Linked DNA regions of Homo sapiens: region 2 is linked to region 1. The links come from fine-mapping of genetic effects on gene expression. A gene starts in region 1. The other region holds a variant in brackets. All regions are shown on one strand. Distances are between the middles of the regions. Region 1 holds the start of MVK (mevalonate kinase). Region 2 overlaps UBE3B (ubiquitin protein ligase E3B).

The links. PIP is the estimated chance that this variant, and not a neighbour inherited with it, causes the effect. A credible set is the group of variants that fine-mapping cannot tell apart.
Region 2: its variant is the best candidate, but not a certain one, in a credible set for the expression of MVK in whole blood (INTERVAL, PIP 0.78).

What each region holds. Positions count from the first base shown.
Region 1 is chr12:109,569,001-109,579,098 of GRCh38, forward strand. It overlaps MVK (mevalonate kinase), which reads left to right and starts at 4,794. Exons shown (of 11, transcript NM_000431.4): 1 at 4,794-4,873; 2 at 5,809-5,900; 3 at 6,998-7,145. The coding sequence starts at 5,823. It overlaps MMAB (metabolism of cobalamin associated B), which reads right to left and starts at 4,504. Exons shown (of 9, transcript NM_052845.4): 1 at 4,347-4,504; 2 at 2,649-2,710. The coding sequence starts at 4,480. RefSeq lists enhancers at 3,894-4,395, 4,396-4,895 and silencers at 4,655-4,784, 4,805-5,034.
Region 2 is chr12:109,504,208-109,514,305 of GRCh38, forward strand. UBE3B (ubiquitin protein ligase E3B) reads left to right here. Exons shown (of 28, transcript NM_130466.4): 15 at 3,357-3,528; 16 at 5,389-5,507; 17 at 6,137-6,251; 18 at 6,997-7,096. Among named protein-coding and RNA genes, the nearest start is that of UBE3B, 32 kb to the left of the region's middle. The variant C/T (reference allele first, on the strand shown) is at 6,201.

The DNA.
Region 1 (10,098 bases):
AGCGGCGTGATCTTGGCTCACTGCAGCCTCCCCCTCCCAGGTTCAAGTGATTCTCATGCCTCAGTCTCCCAAGTAGCTGGGATTACAAGTGTGTACCACCATGCCCGGCTAATTTTTGTATTTTTAGTAGAGACGGGTTTTCGCCCATGTTGGCCGAGCTAGTCTTGAACTCCTGGTCTCAAGTGATTCACCCGCCTCAGCCTCCCAAAGTGCTGAGATTACAGGCATGAGCCACCGTACCACCCCTTAAAGAACTTTCAACTTGAAATATAGCATATACACAGAAAAGTGCTCAAATCGTAAGTGTGCAAGTTGGTGAATTACTACTAACTGAATATACCTCCTTGATCAGCACCTAGCTTCATAAACAGAACATGAGCAACACCCTGAAAGCCCCCATGTAACCCCTTTTAGTTGCCACTCCCCAAGGGTTAGCCACTATGCTCACTTCTTTCCTGATGTGCTTTTCAACTTAAAAACCACATACTAACCATCCTGATAAAGAAATACAACACGTTCTATATTTTATATCATATATACATTACCATTATATTTCACATGAAGTCAAAGTCCTCTGTGCCTCTGCCTAGCTCACAGTCCCGCCTTTCTCCCCCAACCTCTGAGAAAGTGAAAACTGCCCCTGACAGTTTGGAGCTGGCTTTCGCTATCGGGCAGGCTTTGGGGTTGCCAGGTGCCGGCCTGGCACTCACAGGTAGACTGTGGTGTTCTGCTGAACACAAACCATTTCACAGAAAACCATCAGACAGGCCACTCTATGACTATGACGGTTCGAGACCAAGACAAGGCCACTGCGGAAGAACGTCTGAGCACAGACGACTGTGTCCAAACTCCAAAAGATGACCAAACCTCCCCCTTCCCTGGCTAATGTGAGTGACTGCTGCATCTTTATCCATTACAGCGTTAGCACCTCTTTGTCCCTTCTGTCTTCTAGAAACAAATTATTAACATACCCAATTACAGGCCAGGTGCAGTGGCTCACACTGTAATCCCAGGACTTTGGGAGGCCATGGTGGGCAGATCACTTGAGGCCAGGAGTTCGAGACTAGCCTGGCCAACATGGCAAATCCCCGTCTCTACTAAAAACAGAAAAAATTAGTTGGGCATGGTGATGCATGCCTGTAGTCCCAGCTATTCGCGAGGCTGAGGCATAAGAATTGCTTGAACCCAGGAGGTTGCAGTGAGCTGAGATCGTGCCACTGCACTCCAGCCTGGGCAACAGAACTAGACCCTGTCTCAAAAAACAAAAAAAGATACCCAGTGACAGAAACAGCCCTGCTTCCTAACAGGATTCAATCCAGAACAAAGCCCCACTTCCTTGTAACCACCCAACACAAGCCCAACCCTACAATAAGTCCTTTCCAACATCCTCTTCCTTCTTTTTAATTGTGGTAACAGATGATACATAACAGAAATTTTACCATTTTGACCCTTCTTAAGTTTACCATTCAGTGGCACTGAGTATGTCCCGTACATGCTTTTATACTTTTACTATACAAGTATATATCCAAAAAACAATACATACTAGTGGTCTGCATGCTTTTGTACTACAAAAAATGGTATACTGTCTTGGTGCGGTAGCTCATGCCTCCTGTAATCCCAGCATTTTGGGAGGCTGAGCTGGGAGGATACCTTGAGCCTAGCAGTTCAAGACCAGCCTGGGCAACACAGCAAGACCTCATCTCTACAAAAAAAATTAAAAAGTATTAGCCAGGCATGGCGATGTGTGCCTGTTGTCCCAGATACTCAGAAGGCTGAGGTGGGAGGATTGCTTGAGTCTGAAAGGTGGAGGCTGTTGTGAGCCATGACTGAGCCACTGCACTCCAGCCTGGGTGACAGAGTAAAACCCTGTATCAAAAAAAAAAAAAAAAAAGGATCATAGCAACGCATTCTTCTGCATCTTACTTTTTTCTATATAACATGTTCTAGCATTTTAAAAACTATTAAAGTAATATATACTCATTATAAAAAATAATAAAATAGAATAAAAGTATGTAAATAGTGAAAGTCCTTCTGTTTGTTCCCCTCTCACAACTTAATCTCTCTCCCAGAACAGTCCCAGGTGTAACCTTTCAGACTATTCTACACACACCTGAACACACATATATGTACATGCTTATCCAGACAGATTCAGGCTTTTGTCATTTAATATCTCTTGGGTGTTTTTCATTTCACATTACATTTTTGTAACATATTTTGAGATCTGTCAAATATCATACTTTTTTTTTCTGAGACTTTTTTTTTTTCTGAGATGGAGTCTTGCTCTGTCACCCAGGCTGGAGTGCAGTGGCATGATCTTGGCTCACTGCAACCTCTGCCTCCCGAGTTCAAGCAATTCTCCTGCCTCAGCCTCCCAAGTAGCTGCTGGGGTTACAGGCATGGACCACCATACTCAGCTAATTTTTGTATTTTTAGTAGAGATGGGGTTTCACCACATTGGCCAGGCTAGTCTCAAATTCCTGGCCTCAGATGATTAGCCCAACAGGGCCTCCCAAAGTGCCGGGATTACAGGCATGAGCCACCGCGCCTGGTATATTATACTTTAAAGTGGCTGCAAAGAATTTGGAAGAACTTTAAAATGGTGTATGCCATGAGTATTTCTTTGCATTTTTCACCTGTCCCCACCCTACCTTTGTCTCCCGTTTTGGTGTAAATCTTGGGGATCCTGGGTGTCTTCGAGGAAGGCTGTGGCCTAATGAGAAATAAACATCAGTATCTGGTGAGTGGGGATGGCTTACACAGAGGGTCAGCTCCTTCAGAGGGTCCCAGCTTGCTGCTTGTAACCTCAGAGGCAGCACTTACCCCTTACTGCTTAGATGGTCATCTCTTGTTGATTTCTTTCCCCTAGATCCTTTCTAATAGCAAACATTTTGTGGGCAAGACCAGAGCTGGATGACAGAGTGTGTAGAGTAGCTGATGTAATGCCTTGCTCAACAAAGATGCTCAATAAATATTTGCTGAAGGACTTGATTGATCCTTTGCCATTGTCCCTGCACTGTGCCAAGTAGTTTACAGGCATTATCTTCTGGAATTATCCTGGAATCTTTCCACAACCCCAAAGGTAGCCAACACCTATTCTCTTCATTTTACTGAGGAGGAAACTATGGCTCAGATGAGACACCTTCCTAGACCATCCAAGAAGAGGCAGGAGTGGGATGCCCAAAACTGTCCTAGACCAGAGCACAAACTGTAACTTCTATCCTACCGAAATTATTTATTTATTTATTATTATTATTATTATTTTGAGATGGGGTCTCACTCTGTCACCCAGGCTGAAATGCAGTTGCACGATCTAGGCTCACTGCAACCTCTGCCTCCCAGGCTCAAACAATCCTCCCACCTCAGCCTCCCGAGCAGCTGGGAGCACGGGTGTATACCACCACACCCAGCTAATTTTTTTTTTTTTTTTTTTTTGGTAGAGACGGGTTTCACCATGTTGCTCAGGCTGGTTTTGAACTCCTGAGCTCAAGCAATACTCCTGCCTCAAACTCCCAAAGTGTTGTGATTACAGGCGTGAGCCACCGTATCTGGCCTATGATTATTTTGTTCACAGACAGGGTCTTGCTCTGTTGCCTAAGCTGGAATGCAGTGCAGTGGCATGATCATAGCTCACTGCAGCCTTGAACTCCTGAGCTCAAGTGATCCTCTGCCTCAGCCTCCCAAGTAGCTAGGACTCTTAACTCTATCCTACCCAAATTTTTATCTTATACTCCACCAACTCAGGGCCTCTTGCAGGAAAAGAAACCTGAGCCACTTCCATAGTATGAGGCTTCGAGTGTACTCAGAGATGAAGAATTGCCAAAATACAGCTCAAAAAGTGGCATTTTCAAAAAACAATGTAAACAACTCAAGGACATAGCTCAAAATTAAAATGTGACATTACAAGCCCATTCGAAGGTTAATTTCCTGGATCTGTGAACTAAATTAATCCATTATTAATCCACGGTACTCTAGAGGTTCTGAGGTCTGGGTTGAGGTGCAAGTTTCAAGGAATATGAGGAAAGCCATCTTTAGAAGGTGCTGGTGTATCTGGGACCTGGGGAATAAACTGCTTTGGAGATTGGTCACAATCTGAGTCGAGAGCCCTCCTGGCCCACATGGGATATGCCCTGCCCTGCCCGATGATAGCGGGACTTCATTGGGACTTAGGCAAAGACTACCTGGTCTCTGGCGCCCACGTGGCCCACGTTGCCATGGTGACGTCAGAACAGCGTGGAGACGTCACCTGACGGTTGCCGCGGTGACCTCACGGCGGTGTGACGTACCCATGGCGACGACACCACGATTCACGGCAGGTGTTCGAGTTGCCCTTCCCGCCAGCCACTCACCTGTCCCCGTCTTCCACGCCCTGAGGGCCGCGGCTCTGGAAACGGGGATACAGGAGCCTGGCGGCGCCGAAGCACCCGCGCAGGCCAAGACGGCTCCCCAGGCCAAGACGGCTCCCCAGGCCGCACACAGCCATGAGCCAGGCTGCTTGACGGGACCTGACCCCGCCAGGTTCCCGTCCAGTCCGCGGGGTGACTCCACCCACAGCTGGCCGCGCCACCGCTCAGGTTTCAATTTTTATTGGTTCGCAGTTCTCACCCCAGGGCGGGACACTCCCAGGGACTTGTTTCCCATTGGTTTAACGGAAGGAGCGGGGCGGGAAAACCCGTGTCGGCTTGGCTGCAACACCTATTGACCAATGTTCAAGCCTATTGGTAAAGGTACTCCGGGCTCGCGCGCTCTGATTGGCTGGCCTGAAGTACAACGCCTCCTCCCCTTGAGGCACGGGCGCTCTGGGTTGTGGGAGTTGGGGAGCTGCTCCGGCTTCGGCGCGGAGGGGCGGCGGCCGGGGAGGCGGCGGCGGCGGCAGGTGAGAGGCCGGGGTCGGGCGGCCGGGCGGCGCGAGGTCCTAGACCCAGGACGACGCTGAGCCAGGCGTCCAGCTTCTGTGGCTCAGTTTACCCAGCTCTGAGAGTCTTGCCCCGAGGGATCGGCGACCTCAATCTGACAGTCGTGATTTTGAGCTTGACAAGCAAGGGGATTCCCCGCTCTGAGCCTCAGTTTTTCTAAGAAATGGGGATCACGATAGTACTTAGCTCATAGTACACCTGAATCTTAGCGTAAGGTAATCTACGTAAAGCCTTAAGCGGAGGATAATTTTGCGTTATGTATAAAAGTGTAAATTGCACACACCTATAGACCCTGCAAGCTCCTTTCTAGGACTCTGTCCTGCAGAAATACTCATTTAAGTGTGCAAAACGAGGCGTACTGGGTGTTTTCTGCAGCCTTGTTTATAATTGTGACACATTGGAAACAGCCTAAATGTCCAGCAAAGAGTTCTTTCTGCTCCATGATTTCATGTAATTTCTACCTTTAATAGTAGTAGTTGTAAAAGCTGAAACGAAGAACAGAGCCAGTAATAAGTAGCTCTCAGTAATTGAATGATTAGTAGGTGCCAGACACCGCCAAGTGTTTCCCTTGCGTTAATTTAACCTTCCTAACATCCACCGAGGTAGGTACGGTTATTTTCTCTCCATATAACGTGTGGGGAAACCGAGGTTCTTAGCCATTTAAGTGAGTTAACTAAGATGACATCACTGGGGAGTGGAAGAGCTGGCATTTGAACCCAGATCTGTTGGATGTGTCCAGTTGACTCCTGCATTGCCTTTCTGGTACGTAGCAAGTGCTGGACGGTAACTACCTTTTTTGTTATTATGATGGGCTTGAACTAGGTGTTCTAAGATCTCTTCCTGCTGGTTCTGACATCTAGAGATCTTTGCTCTTCTCATTGGCTTTCCCTTTTAGGATTCCCAGGAGCCATGTTGTCAGAAGTCCTACTGGTGTCTGCTCCGGGGAAAGTCATCCTTCATGGAGAACATGCCGTGGTACATGGCAAGGTACAAAGCCGTTAGAGCCTTTAAGGATTGGGTACCCCTTCTCCCTGATGCTAATTTTGTAAGAAGGTAAAAGGACACCCTGAGGCACAGCTTGGGAGCAGATCAGAGAGATCAGGTTCTCCCCAGCCAGGCAAGGAAAAGATTTCTTATGCCCACTGAAGGGATTCTTGGGCCTCGCTCGGTATGATAGCAAAAAGATGATTATAATATAAAGCCCTGTGAGTGGAATGAGATCACCTAGGAGTGAGCTTTGATGCAGAAGGAAAGAGGTTTGAGAACTGAGCTCCGGGGCACTAAGACATTTAGAAGTTGGAAGGATGATCTAGCAAAGGAGTTGAAAACATCCATTATCTCATTTTACCCTTACAGCTACCCCCAAGGCATACCCTTTTATTATCCTATTTTACAAATGTGCAAACTGAGGCTTAGGAGAGAAGTGGTAACTTGATCCAAGTCCTATATACCTTGGTAGAGCTTGGTGTGAACCTAAGTCTGTCTGAAACCACCTCTGCTGCACTCTGCTTTTTTTTTTTTTTCCTGAGACAGTCTTGCTCTGTCACCGGAGTGCAATCTTGCGATCATGGCTCACTGCAGCCTCCAACCTCAGCCTCCCAAGTAGCTGGGACCACAGGTGTGTACCACCATGCCCCACTAATTTTTTTCTTTTATTTTTCTGTAGAGACGTGGTCTGACACTACGCTGGTCTCAAACTCCTGGGCTCAAGTGATCCTCTTGCCTTGGCCTCCCAAAGTGCTGGGATTACAGATATGAGCCACCACACCTGGCTTCTCACTGCTATTCTTTATGTTCTTATATTTCTCATTGAAAACATGGTGATTATGGGGAAGTGATTCCTTGGTATTGAGAACCTCTGAAATTTTGCAGGCAGAAGGCAAAGTGGATTTTAACTTTTAGCTGATCGATGGTGGCTGTTCCCAGGCTTAGTGGGAGAGCATGCCAAGGTTGATTAGCAGTGTCTGGCAAGGGCATGGCTAGGAGTGGCCTCTGTGCTTATGTTTGCTCTCTTCTTAGCACGTGGGTCCTGGCCCCTTTGCCACTCACCCTCAGGCTTATTGCTTTTGTCATTTATTCTATAGGTAGCACTGGCTGTATCCTTGAACTTGAGAACATTCCTCCGGCTTCAACCCCACAGCAATGGGAAAGTGGACCTCAGCTTACCCAACATTGGTATCAAGCGGGCCTGGGATGTGGCCAGGCTTCAGTCACTGGACACAAGCTTTCTGGGTGAGTGCAAGGAGGAGAAACCAGGTGTGCTAAGAGCCTACAGAGAGGGCAGCTGGCCAGGTATTCTGGGCTGTCCCCAAGGGAGCCAGGGGCCAGCTATTTCCCGGGTGTTTTCTACCCTGACCTCATAAAATTAGCTTCACTCATTTTATTTTTTTAAAATTTATAGGTGTAAAACAATGCATTGGATCTCTGTGGGCTGTTGTGGACAGATCATCAAGGCCTATTGTTGAGTGAAAAAAATGCAAAACAGCAAACATACGTATTTAAGTATAAATATGTGTATAAATGATAGAAAAGGTCTCGGGGGCATAGACATCAGATTGGCAGTGGTGATTAGTTCTCCTGGGAGAGACCTAGGGCCAGAGAGTAGACAAAGTGACACATGTTTTAAATAAGGAGAATATATTGGCATTTTGTATAATTAAAAATTGATAAAAGTAGGCCAGGCACAGTGGCTCATGCCTGTAATTCCAGCACTTTGGGAGGCCAAGGCGGGCGGATCATCTGAGGTCAGGAGTTCGAGACCAGCCTGGCCAACATGTCGAAACCATGTCTCTACTAAAAATACAAAAATTAGCTGGGTGTGGTGGCACACACCTGTAATCTCAGCTACTCAGGAGGCTGAGGTAGGAGAATCGCTTGAACCTGGGAGGCAGAGGTTGCAGTGAGCCAAGATTGCGCCATTGCACTCCAGCCTGGGGGACAGGGCAAGACTCCATCTCAAAAAAAAAAAAAAAAATTTAATAAAAGTACAAGTTACCTATGCTTATTATTGGAAAATATAGTCAATACTGGGACATTGTAATTTTAAAAATCACCTATTATTTCCCTTCTCCTTTCCCTGACCCCAGTAATGACTCTAAGCATTTAGGCATTAATCCTTCTGGGTGATTTTCTGTAGATTGATAGAAAGATTGATAGAGACAGGGAGATATCTTGGTTTTTTAACCAAAATTGGGTCAGGCCATATAAACCATTCAGAAGTACTGATTTTTTCTTTGTGTGTCACGTGTGTGTGCTGATTTTTGACAGCACTGTGAAGATTTCATCCACTCATAAGCAGGCCAGCTTTTTCCATCAGTGGAGTCCCCTGTACCTGCCCCAGAGCTGACGTGTGTTTTCTCTGTTGTCAGTTTACTGTCTGCTCCCTGGGCTGAATGAAGCCTTGCTCTTTGGAACAGTGTTTCTCAGCCAGGATGGGGTAAATGAGAATCTTTTTGGGTTTTTTCCTTACACTGCACCTGAACCCTTGACACCTGCTTCCCATTCCCCATGAGAAACCACAGTCACTCCCATATGCCGTATGGGGATGGAGGAAGAGTTGAAAATTCTCATTTCACTTGTTGAGATGGGGTCTCACTGTGTTGCCCAGGCTGGTCTGGAACTCCTGGGCTCAAGCAGTTTTCCACTTTCCCACCTTGGGCTCCCAAAGTGCTGGGGTTACAGGTGAGAGCCACTGTGCCCAGCCAAAATCCTCATTTTAGAGCAGCCCTTTTTAACTTCATCATATCTTGGAATCACCCAGGAGTTTTTTGTGATGGTGGTGGTGGTTTTTTTTAACCAATACAGATGGATGGGCTCCTGGCTCCGCCCCTCTCTTATTGGGAGTTGGTAGTGGTGGTAGGAGTTTTTGAAAGGGGTTCCTTGGGTGATTCTGGGGACACCTCAGTTAAAAGCCACTCCTTTGGAGCGTGCATCTGAAAACAACCAGCCAGAGCACATGGAACTTGCTTTCCAAGGTGCACAGGGCCACCCAGCCAGACCAGAAATGTCTCCTGAGAACCAGCTGCAACTTGTGTATGTCAGTAGCTTGGGGTGGAAGCAGCCAGGTATGGGGGAACATGTCTCAGACCACTCCAACTCCCTCAGTGAACCTGGGGCAGGTCACTTCATCCTCTGGGCCTCGGAGCAGAGACATGTTTCCTGACTGAGGGCTGCCATGAGGATCCGACGACACTGGAGGCAGGCATTAGGGGTGCGACACAGAGTGCATTATGTAGGGAAGGGCTTGTTAGTTTTGGAGCTCTGGGAGACATACTATCTTCTAGGTTGCAAAGATCTACCATCTTTCTTTCAGTGTCCTTTTGCTCCCTCCTGATAGTAATAAACATTGAACTTTTTTTTTTTTTTTAAGAGGCAGGGTCTTACTATGTTGCCCAGGCTGGTCCCAAATTCCTGGGCTCAAGTGTTCTTCTGCCTTAGCCTCCCGAGTAGCTGGGAATATAAGCACATACCACTGCACCGTGCTACTACAGTGAACACTTATTGGGCACTTACGTGTGCCAGGCACTAAGTGTGTTCACATATGTTAGCACTCTTAGAATTCGCCAGCATTCCCTGGAAGTAGGTGGTGGTATTCATCCCCATTGTACAGATCTGAAAATTAAAGTTCAGAGGTCAAGTGGCTCAGGTTACACTTGTTGGTGACACTGAAAGGATTCAGACCCAGGTTTCTCCTAGCCCCAAAGTCCAGGCTCTTAACAGCTGTTCCATCTCGATTACAAAGCTCTGAAATACCTGGGTTCTCAATGATGCCATGACTTGGCCATTTGAGTATATCATTAATCCATTCAACACACATTTACCCAGTACTTAACCAGTGCCCGAAGTTTCCTAACACACGCATGCCCAATTCCATTTCCCAGTCCCTTGAGAATGTGACCTGAGGCTCAGCGAGTGATTTGTAAAGGTGAGCTGGCCAGAAAGGCTCTGCCTTCTCAGTGTCTCAGAGGAAAGTGGCCCAGGTTCCTGTACATCCCTGGGAACAACCTGCCTCACCTTCCCCTTCTGCCCAGGCACCGCCTCGCATTTACACTGTCCTATTCCTGATGATTATCTTTTGGAGGAGGGAAATATTTTGGGGGTTAACTTAACACTCTTTTGATTTTGGTTTTATACAATGGAAGGTGAAACCTAGGCCCTTGTGCGATTGAGCCAGCATTCTCTGTGT
Region 2 (10,098 bases), 65 kb before region 1:
TGTTTTGGGATGTTTAGCAGCCCTGGTCCCTACTCATAGATGCCAGTAGCACCTTCCCAACCAGCGTGACAGCCAAACATATCTTCAAATTTGGCATTCAGCCAAATGCCCCCTGGGAGGCAAAATCATTCCTGGTTGAAAGCCACTGGCCTAGTTTAGTAGCAATGGAGATTAAGGCAGGAGGATTTAGATTTGTTTTAGAGGTAGAAGATATGGGTCTTACTGGTAGCTTGGATTTGGGAGCATGAGGACTGAGGGTTTTAAAGAAGATACCAGGTTGTTGGCCCAACCACCTGTGTGGATGGTAGCACTGTTTGCTGAGCTGGAGAAGACCGGGGGCAGGGCCTGTGAGGAGTCTGTTGTGTTGTGGCTGTGACAAGGGAAAGGGGCCTGCTGGGCATGCTGGCAGAGGTGACACTCTGGGAGCATCAGCTGAGGGATGGAGTGTAAAGCCATGGGCTTTCAGCCTAGGGCAGGTTTCCCAAAGATGAGCAGAGGGAGGAGAGAAGGGGCAAGACCATACCTGGGGTACCCCAGCGCCTGAGGGTTTGAGCAGCATCTTGAGTGAGAGGAGTTTGGGGTTGTGGTTTGTGTCCAGCTTTTTTTTTTTTTTTCGAGACGGAGTCTCACTCTGTCGCCCAGGCTGTAGTGCAGTAGCGCAATCTCGGCTCAACTGCAGGCTCCGCCTCCCAGGTTCACGCCATTCTCCTGCCTCAGCCTCCCGAGTAGCTGGGATTACAGGCGCCTGCCACCATGCCCGGCTAATTTTTTTTTTGTATTTTTAGTTGAGACGGGGTTTCACTGTGTTAGCCAGGATGGTCTCGATCTCCTGTGTGTCCAGCTTTTTAAATGAGCTCACATTGAAGCTCATTTTCCCAAGTGAGAGAATCCAAATACAGGTTTTTTAGTCAACTTGAAAATATACACTTTAAGGATAAAGATAAACTAGTCTAAAGTGTATGTTTGATATTCAGTCTATTTAGCAACTTAGATTATAGAAAATAACGCTTGTTTTTAAAATACTGCTGTTTTTCTACTGACAACTTAGGAAGTGTCTGTTTGTGCTCCTCACACACATCTGATAGCACTGGCACTGCTGCTGGTCTGTCTGCCATTGCTCTGCCAGGCCCAGTGTCTCCATCTCTGTCTAAATGGCTAGATATGCAGCCCTTGTTGAATCAGTGTGTGATGCTATGAGCATTCTAGTCTACGCTACATGAGTCCTTTACACAGAACTCGAGGACACTTGCTTTTCTTCTTTTATCCCATAGGAGTATATTTGTGATCTCCACAGTGTTAACTGTTTCCTCTGTTTCTATTTTAACCTATTTTTGAATTGTGAGAGTTCCACATTCTTGGGTGTGTTTGATATAACATGGACAGTTGAAAGACTAGTTATGAGTGGGGCACCTATGTCATCACCAACAGATCAAGAAAGTCTTGCTTCTAAAGGCTTCTTTATAACCACATCCTCCTACCCTTGAAAATGTGAGGTCTAAGCTCTAGGCATAATCACTAAATTGATACAATTCTTGGCCTCCTTTAGAATTCCTTCAGTTCACCCTCTAAGTATCCTTCAGTAGCTCTGATGGAGTTCCCCCAACTCCCACTGCTGGCTAATATACCTTCCCCAAACAGTTCTTTATTCAAAACTAAATAATTCAGAGAGTGCCCTATAAGATGAGAGGTATTGTAAGGGCTCGTATACAAGGTGACTGTGCTTTTCTGAGGAACACACCTTAATGTATATTCAGTGACACATGGCATTTCAGATCCAGCCTTTCTAAGTCAAGAGATGTGTTATTAGATGTAAACTATACCCGTGATGTGGCCTGTGTGTCTAAGGCCTTGTAGCCATCAGGAAACAAATTTAGAAAGTCCTCTGTGTCCCCTTTTGCTTCCTCAGGGTTCCATTTTTGTATAGTTCAGAGCATCCTACCACAGTCATTGACTGCATTTCCACTTTTAACATAATAGAATAATAGAGGTAAGTGGGGGGAAGCTTTGCCAAAGGTGGCGAGCCTGCAAGATGGTTTAAGGCAAGGGTCAGCAGACTACTGTTGGGGGGCCAAATCCAGCCCACTACTTGTTTTTGTCAATAAATTTTTACTAGAACAGACCCAAATCTGTTTTGTTTTTGTTTTTGTTTTTGTTTTTGGAGACAGAGTTTCGCTCTTGTCGCCCAGGCTAGAGTGCAGTGGTGCGATCTCGGCTCACTGCAACCTCTGCCTCCCAGGTTCAAGCGATTCTCCTGCCTCAGCCTCCTGAGCAGCTGGGATTACAGGTGCTGGCCACCACGCCCGGCTGATTTTGTATTTTTTAGTAGAGACAGTGTTTCTCATCATGTTGGCCAGGCTGGTCTCAAACTCCTGACCTCAGATGATCCACCCGCCTCAGCCTCCCAGAGTGCTGGGATTACAGGCGTGAGCCACAGCACCGGGCTGCCAAATCTGTTTCTTTACACATTGTCTGTGGCCGCTTTTGTGCTGTAGTGGTAGCACTGAGTAGTTGTAACAGTGTTAGACTAAATTTGGCCTGAGGATGCCTCCATATTTTGAGTCCTTAAGTAAGGAACTGCAGCCTAACTTAGTATGTAAACTGACTAGAAGTCTAACTTAGGACTATTCAGTATTTTTGTAACAAATAGCTGCCAATCACAGCAGCCTAGCTTCAATCAATCACAGGTGGCCATCTGATTAGACCACATTCAAATAAGGCAAAGCCGAGGTGTAACCAGTCAAGCTGTCTCTGTACCTCACTTCAGTTTTGCCCCTAAATGTTGCCTGCCCAGAATGTGGACTGGAGCTGTCTGAACCTCGTCTGGTTCTGAGGGCTGCCTGATGGATGAATTGTTTTTTGCTCAGACTTGGCTAGATTTAATTTAACAGCAGAGACCTTCTGGCCCACAGTGCCTAAAAATATTTACTCTTTGGCTGTTTCCTGAAACAAATTGCTGATCCCTGATTTAAAGCATAAATGCTAAGTCAGACCTGAGTTCTATTCCTGGCTCTGACATACAGGCTGTGTGATTTGGGGCCAATTATTTAACCTTTCTGTGCTTCAGTTTCCTCCTGTATAAGATGGGGATAACACTGGGCTTCAGAAAATGGAAAGCAAACAATACATACGGAGTGCTTAGAATGGTGCCTGGCACATAGTCAGCACCCACTGACTACTGGCTCTTATCATTGTTACTCTCGTGGTGATAATGCTTTTCTCCATAATCCCACCTTCTTTTCACGCACATTAAATGTTCATGGATAGGTTTAAGTGTTTTGTTTCCCCACTGGATAGGAGAAATAACAGACCAGGTGGAGTCTCCACCTGAAGCTTGGGTTTCTCTGTGTTTTTTCCAGGTCTCACTTACCTTGATGACCTGCTTCCCAAACTGTGGGCATTTATCTGTGAGCTCGGGCCCCACGGAGGGTTAAAGCTCTTCTTGGAATGCCTGAACAATGACACTGAAGAGTCCAAGCAACTCTTGGCCATGCTGATGCTGTTCTGTGACTGTTCGCGGCACCTCATCACGTAGGTTGACTGCTGTGGGACTGAATTCCTTTCCTAGAATATGGAGAGACCAAAATACAGTGTCAGTAAGGAAGTAATTGCTAATGTGATTACTGCAAACATTTGGACCTGTGTGGCAGGGCATTGTAAGAACTAGCCATTTACCAAGTGAGCAGTGTGCAGTAAATGTTCAGCAGTTGTTAGGGTGGGGCCTGGGAGTTAAAAGTTCCCATCCTTTCAAGGAAGCTGATCAGTACCACTGGCTGTGGCTTGGGGTCTCCTGGAGATGGGTTTAGATCATGGCTCAGCCATTTATTCACTGTGCTAGCTAGATTCCTGGAAAATTCCAAAGTCAGAGCCAGGGTGCAGATCCTTGCTAAGCAGATCTTGAGACACCCTGGGCAAGGGATCACGGATTCAACCTCTCTGAGACTCAGTTGACTCATCTGTAAATGGGAATGACAATAGCACATACCTTTTAGGCACATGGTAGGGATTAAAAGACATAATTATTGCAAAGTGCTTATCACAGTCCCTGGCACATAGGATGAGTTCAGTACTTGTTGGCTCTTATTATTATCAAGCCGACCCTGAGCAAGTTTCTTAACCTCTTTGAGTCTCTATTTCCTCATTAGAATGAAGAGAATATTACCAGTTCAATAGAGGGTAAGTGAAAAAAACAGCGTCAAATACTTAGTGCAGTGCCTGGCACAGAGTGGGAAATTAACAAACATTAGTCCCATTTAGTTCCTTTGGTTTTTAAGCTTATGCATCTTGTGTGTTTGGTATTCTTTTCATTCCACCTTTTCCCAAAAGGTTGGTGAAGAATTATAAGATACAATGGACCTCAGGCAGTTATGTTCAGGCTGGAAGACTTTAGCCGGAGAGGATCAGGGACATGTAGGTGGCAGATTGGGTGAGGATCATGGAAGAACTCACTGAGCAGTTGGAGGCAAGAGCAGGGGTCTAGCTGCTGGTGAAGACATCCTTAATCACTGGATGGGGGTAAGCCAAGAGTGAATCTTATTCTAGTGTATGGAGCAGTGTTAGGAAATGTTCAGATAGAGCTGTGTCTTAAATGGCTCATTTATTCATATGTTCTTTCAAACATTTATTCATTTACTCACAAATGCTTACTAAGTACCTGCTAAGTGTCACTAGTATGTGTCTTAGATATCGAAAAGATTCTGCAGCTTTCCTCAGTAAACATCGACTCTCAGTCAATGTTCCTTGATATGCAGACATGAATAAGGAAGGCGTGAATTGAGGTGTGAATTAAGAAAGTGTCACAGTCAGATCCTTATGAATAAGAAAAATATAGAGTACAGATTTTTTCTTAATTGTATTTTTTAACTTTTTACTATGGTCGATTTCAAATTAATAGAAAGTAGAAAGGATAATATAATGAACCCTCATGTGCCCATTATCAGCTTCAACAGTACCACCTCACAGCCAGTTTTGCTTCATCCAAATGCCCACCTGCTTTTCTCTCCCACATTATTTTGAAGCAAATCCTAGACATCATATCATTTTTTTCATTTTATTTTTATTTTATTTTACTTTAAGTTCTAGGATACATGTGCTGAAAGTGCAGGTTTGTTACATAGGTATACATGTGCTGTGGTGGTTTGCTGCACCTGTCACCCCGTCATCTAGGTTTTAAGCTCTACATGCATTAGGTATTTGTCCTAAGGCTCTCCCTCCCCTTTCCCCCTACCCCTGATGATATCATATCATTTTATCTGTAGATTTTACAGTAAGTATCTCTACAAGATAAAGCTTATTTCTCAACCTCGTTTATTGTCTAGTAAGCAGTACAGATTTTTTTTCTCTTCGCCTTTTTTCAGTGTGGAATTGTGGGTAATTTTCTCTCTGATTTAGAATCCTTGATGACATTGAAGTTTATGAAGAACAGATTTCATTCAAACTGGAAGAGCTGGTCACTATCTCCTCTTTCCTGAATTCTTTTGTGTTTAAGATGATCTGGGATGGAATTGTAGGTAAGAGAAAAGGTGTCTGCTGTTGTTTGGTTGATGCTGCACCCAGGGAGGCCGAAGAGTCTATGGCATCAACTGATTCTTAGCTTTATTGTCTCTCCAAGTTAATAGAAGGTGCACATTTATTCCCACAATTGGAAATTTTCTTTCTTCACTCTCTGTGACTTCTTAAGATAGTGGTGTGGTTATAGAAGTCTTGCTCTCCCAGGCTCCCTTCAGGATTTGCATGTATGTGTCGAGGATTATTAATGATGATTAATTTTGCCCTGAATCTCCTGTTGATTCTTCCATTTGATTTCCGTGAAGATAAAACATGTGCCAGTGCACACTTGAGATGAGAGTCCACCTCCCGAAGTGTCTCCAATTGCTCAGGACAAAGCTCCTTAGACTTAAAAGGCCCTTCGGATGACACACTAGTGGGAGGCAGCATGAGTGATTTTGTCTGAGAGGTACTCAGGCCCTGCAGACACTTAGCACTTACCCAGGGTGCCTTTTAATTCTGTCGGTTCCACATATAATTCAGAGCGAGGGAGATCAAGGACTTGATGACAACTGCGGAAGACAAGAGCTGTCCTCCCCTTGCTCTCTGGCTCTGACTCCTCCTCTGACTTTCCTGTTTGTTTGTCCCACAGAGAACGCCAAGGGTGAGACCTTGGAGCTGTTCCAGTCTGTCCACGGGTGGCTTATGGTGCTGTA[C/T]GAGCGGGACTGCCGGCGGCGCTTCACCCCCGAGGACCACTGGCTGCGAAAGTGAGCTCCAGGGGTGAGGAGGGCTCCATGGAAGCCAGCCTGCTCCGGCACGCTGCCCGAGCACTCAGCTCTCATGTTCTAGGGCAGAGAGGACTTTTTCCCTCTGCTTCATTTTGTCTGTTCATTTGTGTAAAGAGAGCTGCTGTCCCTGTGAAGCACCTGTCAGGACGCTTCTGTTAAGAGATGTTTACACCAAATATGATTAGAGTTAATTAATGGCAACAGAGCCAGATTATATTTAGCATACATTTCTCATCCAAACTAGGAAGAGGTCTTTTAGCTGAGCTGAGCAACAGAGCATGAGAGTTAAAAGGCAGTTTTTATTAGCAGAATTACTAGAGTAAAAACTGCTTTTAGGTTTTTTGGAGAGTAATGGGGTGGGGGAAATCCTCCTATCACAACTGAACATAGGCATGTATCTGCATTTTTATCAATGAGTTCAAGCTTTATGGCAACTGCTGAAGCTGTGGCACTAGAGCAGGGACTGGCAAACTTCTGTAAAGGGCCAGATGACTTTAGGCTTTGTGGACCAGACAGTCTCTGTTGTAGCTACTCAACTCTGCTCTTGTAGCACAAAAGCTGCCATAGGCTATACATGTATGAATGAGTATGGTCATGTTCCCATCAGACTCTTGAGAAACAGACAGCACCCTGCATGTGGCCCACATGGTGTCATTTCCCAGCCTCACACTAGAGGATGGTTTCCTTCTTTTAATTCTCCCAAACCCATGTCTTTCTTCTCAAGGGATCTCAAACCTAGCGTGCTCTTCCAAGAACTCGACAGGGACAGAAAACGGGCACAGTTGATCCTGCAGTACATCCCACATGTCATCCCTCACAAAAACGTGAGTTGCACTCAGAGCTGGGCCCCGATGTGTCTTTCTATTCCCCCACGTGGTTCCTGCCTTTCCATCCTTGCTATGGCAATTGGAGGTGACTAAGTGGGATCATTCATTCAGCACAAGGAAACGGTGGTTGCTATTACTTTGGTGAGGTTACACCCAGTGCTGGGGTACAGAGCTGGAGAAGACAGTGTGAACTGGCGATGCTGGTGGAGTGGCAGCCCAGGTACGGAGACCTGACCAGCTGGAGGGAGGGAAAGGGGACAGGAAAGGGTCCCACGGGCAAAAGTGGACAGTGTTGAAAGGCTGAGTTAGAAAGGATGAGGTGCTTTTGGAGAGTCAAATGTGCAGTGTGGCTGGAGAGAATAGAAAGGATGGGGTCAAGAGGAAGCCGAGGAGGGTAGTAGGAACTAGAGCAAGACAGCCTTAGAAACCAAGGCTGGGAGCAAGGGCTTTCTGCAAAGCCACCGGAGGGCTGGAAGCTTAGGAGGCACCTGGTCAGAGCCATACTTCAGGAAGGTCATCTTGGCTGCAGCGTGGAGGGCTGGCTAGAGGCAGGGGTGTTAAAGCAAGCTGTCCTGCACTAGGGTGGGCCCTGGGAGTCAAAAGATGAGCAAGTCAAGAGATTTTTAAGGAGGCCTCAGAGAATGGTCACATCCCAAGGGGAAAGAAAGGAAGAATTCAGGTGATGCTCGGGTGTCTGGCTTGGGTACTTGGGGGGTGTTTTCCTGAGGTGGAAGAGCAGGACTGGGACATGGCGGCGAGTTCAGCATCGAGCAGGTAGGATGTGAGATGTCTCTGGCTCCTGGAAGCCATTGGAAAGGGGGTCTGGCATTCAGGAGGGAGGAGCTTGTGTGGGGAGAGCACCCAAATCTCCTGACTGCCCCCATGGACTGGGTGAGGTAGTCAGGGAATCAGACAGCACCCAAGTCTGCTGACTCCCCCCATAACCTGGGCGAGGTGGTTGGGGAGTCAGACGGAGTGAGAAGTCCAGGGCACTGAGGCAGAGCCCTGCAGGACCCGTCCCACAGAGGGCCAACACGAGGAGGGAAGGAGGGAAACCAGGAGAGTGCCACACACCCGGGGGATGAGAGAGACTTGGGGAGGATTGGGCTGTGGCAGGAGCATCCAGGAAATGAGGGTAGCAAGCATGGCTCACGTCCCTGGTGAGTGGCAGGCACTCTGGAAATGTCCGATGCTGCGACAACACTCAGCTCCTCTTAGAAGAGTCTTCTAGGAGTCTAGGTTGTGTCCTTTATTTTTCTCCTGTTCTATTTTCTTTTTCTTTTTTTAACGAAGTAGACATATTTTTAGAAAAGAGCATAAATCATATTTTTGTAAATTAAATCTCATTTTTCAGAGGTATTTCATCCTCACTGCTGTCTGATACTGTTCTGTCCTTGACTTTAATACTTATGGTTGCTATTCTTTCCCCCTCAAGCAGTGATGTGCAAACAATGTGGCTGTTTAAATTCTTACTGCACTTGGCAAACTCTCAGAAGTGAAGGGCCTTACGGCAATTACTTAATCAAATGTGCCTTCCTTGAGGGAGCCCCTGCTATGATGTCCCTGACCTTGCTTCCAATAGAAAATGCACAGCTTTGCAAAACAGGCTGTTCTGTGGCTTTACTTTTCCAAAAGATAGAACATTCTTCCTCATCATGAACTGTGCTTCTCTGTAACTTCTACCCTTTGGTCCTTGAACAACCCCTAAAAGTGGCTTCTTTTATCTTCTGTGATCTGTTGGCAGCTCCCGTTTGCATGTGGGGCTTGTGTTTTCCAAGTGTAGTATCCTTAGCCTCTCCACCTCGTCTTTGTTTGAAATAGGCTCCAGCCTTCATCTCCTGGGCCTCATCTGGTTTGGTGGTGTCTGGTTTAAAATGCAGCCCCTCCTCCTGGACCCGCGTGTCTGTGAAATCAGCCTCTGACCATTGCATTCCCATAACACATCGTCTAGACCCTCCGCTCTGTTTCTCTGTGGTTCACGTGTGCTGTGGCCACTGGAGGTGCTGCACAATATTTTAAATTTCTGAGGAGAACACAGTGAGACACCACATGAACTGCTAGTTCAGAGTAGTTCGTGGTTTCAACATGAGATTGCACTACATTCTTTTTAATGATGTTTGCAAAGCTGGCTTGTAAGAACAAAATAAAAATATTTTATATTTCAAAGTATGTGCATTTGTAAAATACAGCAACTGAGGTCTTAGGACATAAATATTTGGGACCTAACTACCTAGTAAAAAGGACTGCTAGGGATTTCTTTTGGCCTAGGAGTACCATGAAAAAAGTTACTGCAGTGATAGAGGTGCTGTGAATAAGAAAGTCAGGGAACCGCTGAGATAAATTGGAATGACTTTTAAGTCCAGGGTATATAGTAATCCCCACATTTTTTTTTTCTTTTGGGAATTTTGCTTAAATATGTCATCAAGGTTGTTTGTCCTTAGTTCATAAAATGTCCTCCCTCAGGAAAATGGGGCCCTCGTCATCTCCTGCCCCTTCCTGCTCCGTGATTGCAGGTCCTGGGGGAGTATCTAAGGCTTGGTGTTTTCAGAGCAGATGGGCTGTCTTGTTGCCCCTCCGCCCATCTCAAGCTTCAAGCTCCCCTTAGTGGCATGTGTGCTGCCCTCTGCCATTGAAATATTCTTGCTGGAGTACACAGGAGGGTAATAGGCTCTCTCTGCTCTGTTACCATTATACCATCTGCCCTAAATGTTGAACCTCTCCCTTGTTCTCGATTTCACTATAATGCCTTTCTTGTTTTCCTTAACATTTGTTAAAGCCTCAGCTCTGCCTGGCTCACGTGCACAGCACTTCATTTTCTGCACCCTCTTACATCGCTTTTACCTGTTTATGTGTGACTCATCCCCTGGCTGGCCCTTAAGTCCTCTCTGCCTTTTGTGTTTACCCAGAAGGCCTAAGAGGTGTGGAGTGGGCAGAGGCTTTGTAGTATGGGGGCTGTGTCTGGGCTTTGGATTTCATTCCATCCCCCTGCCCACCAACTG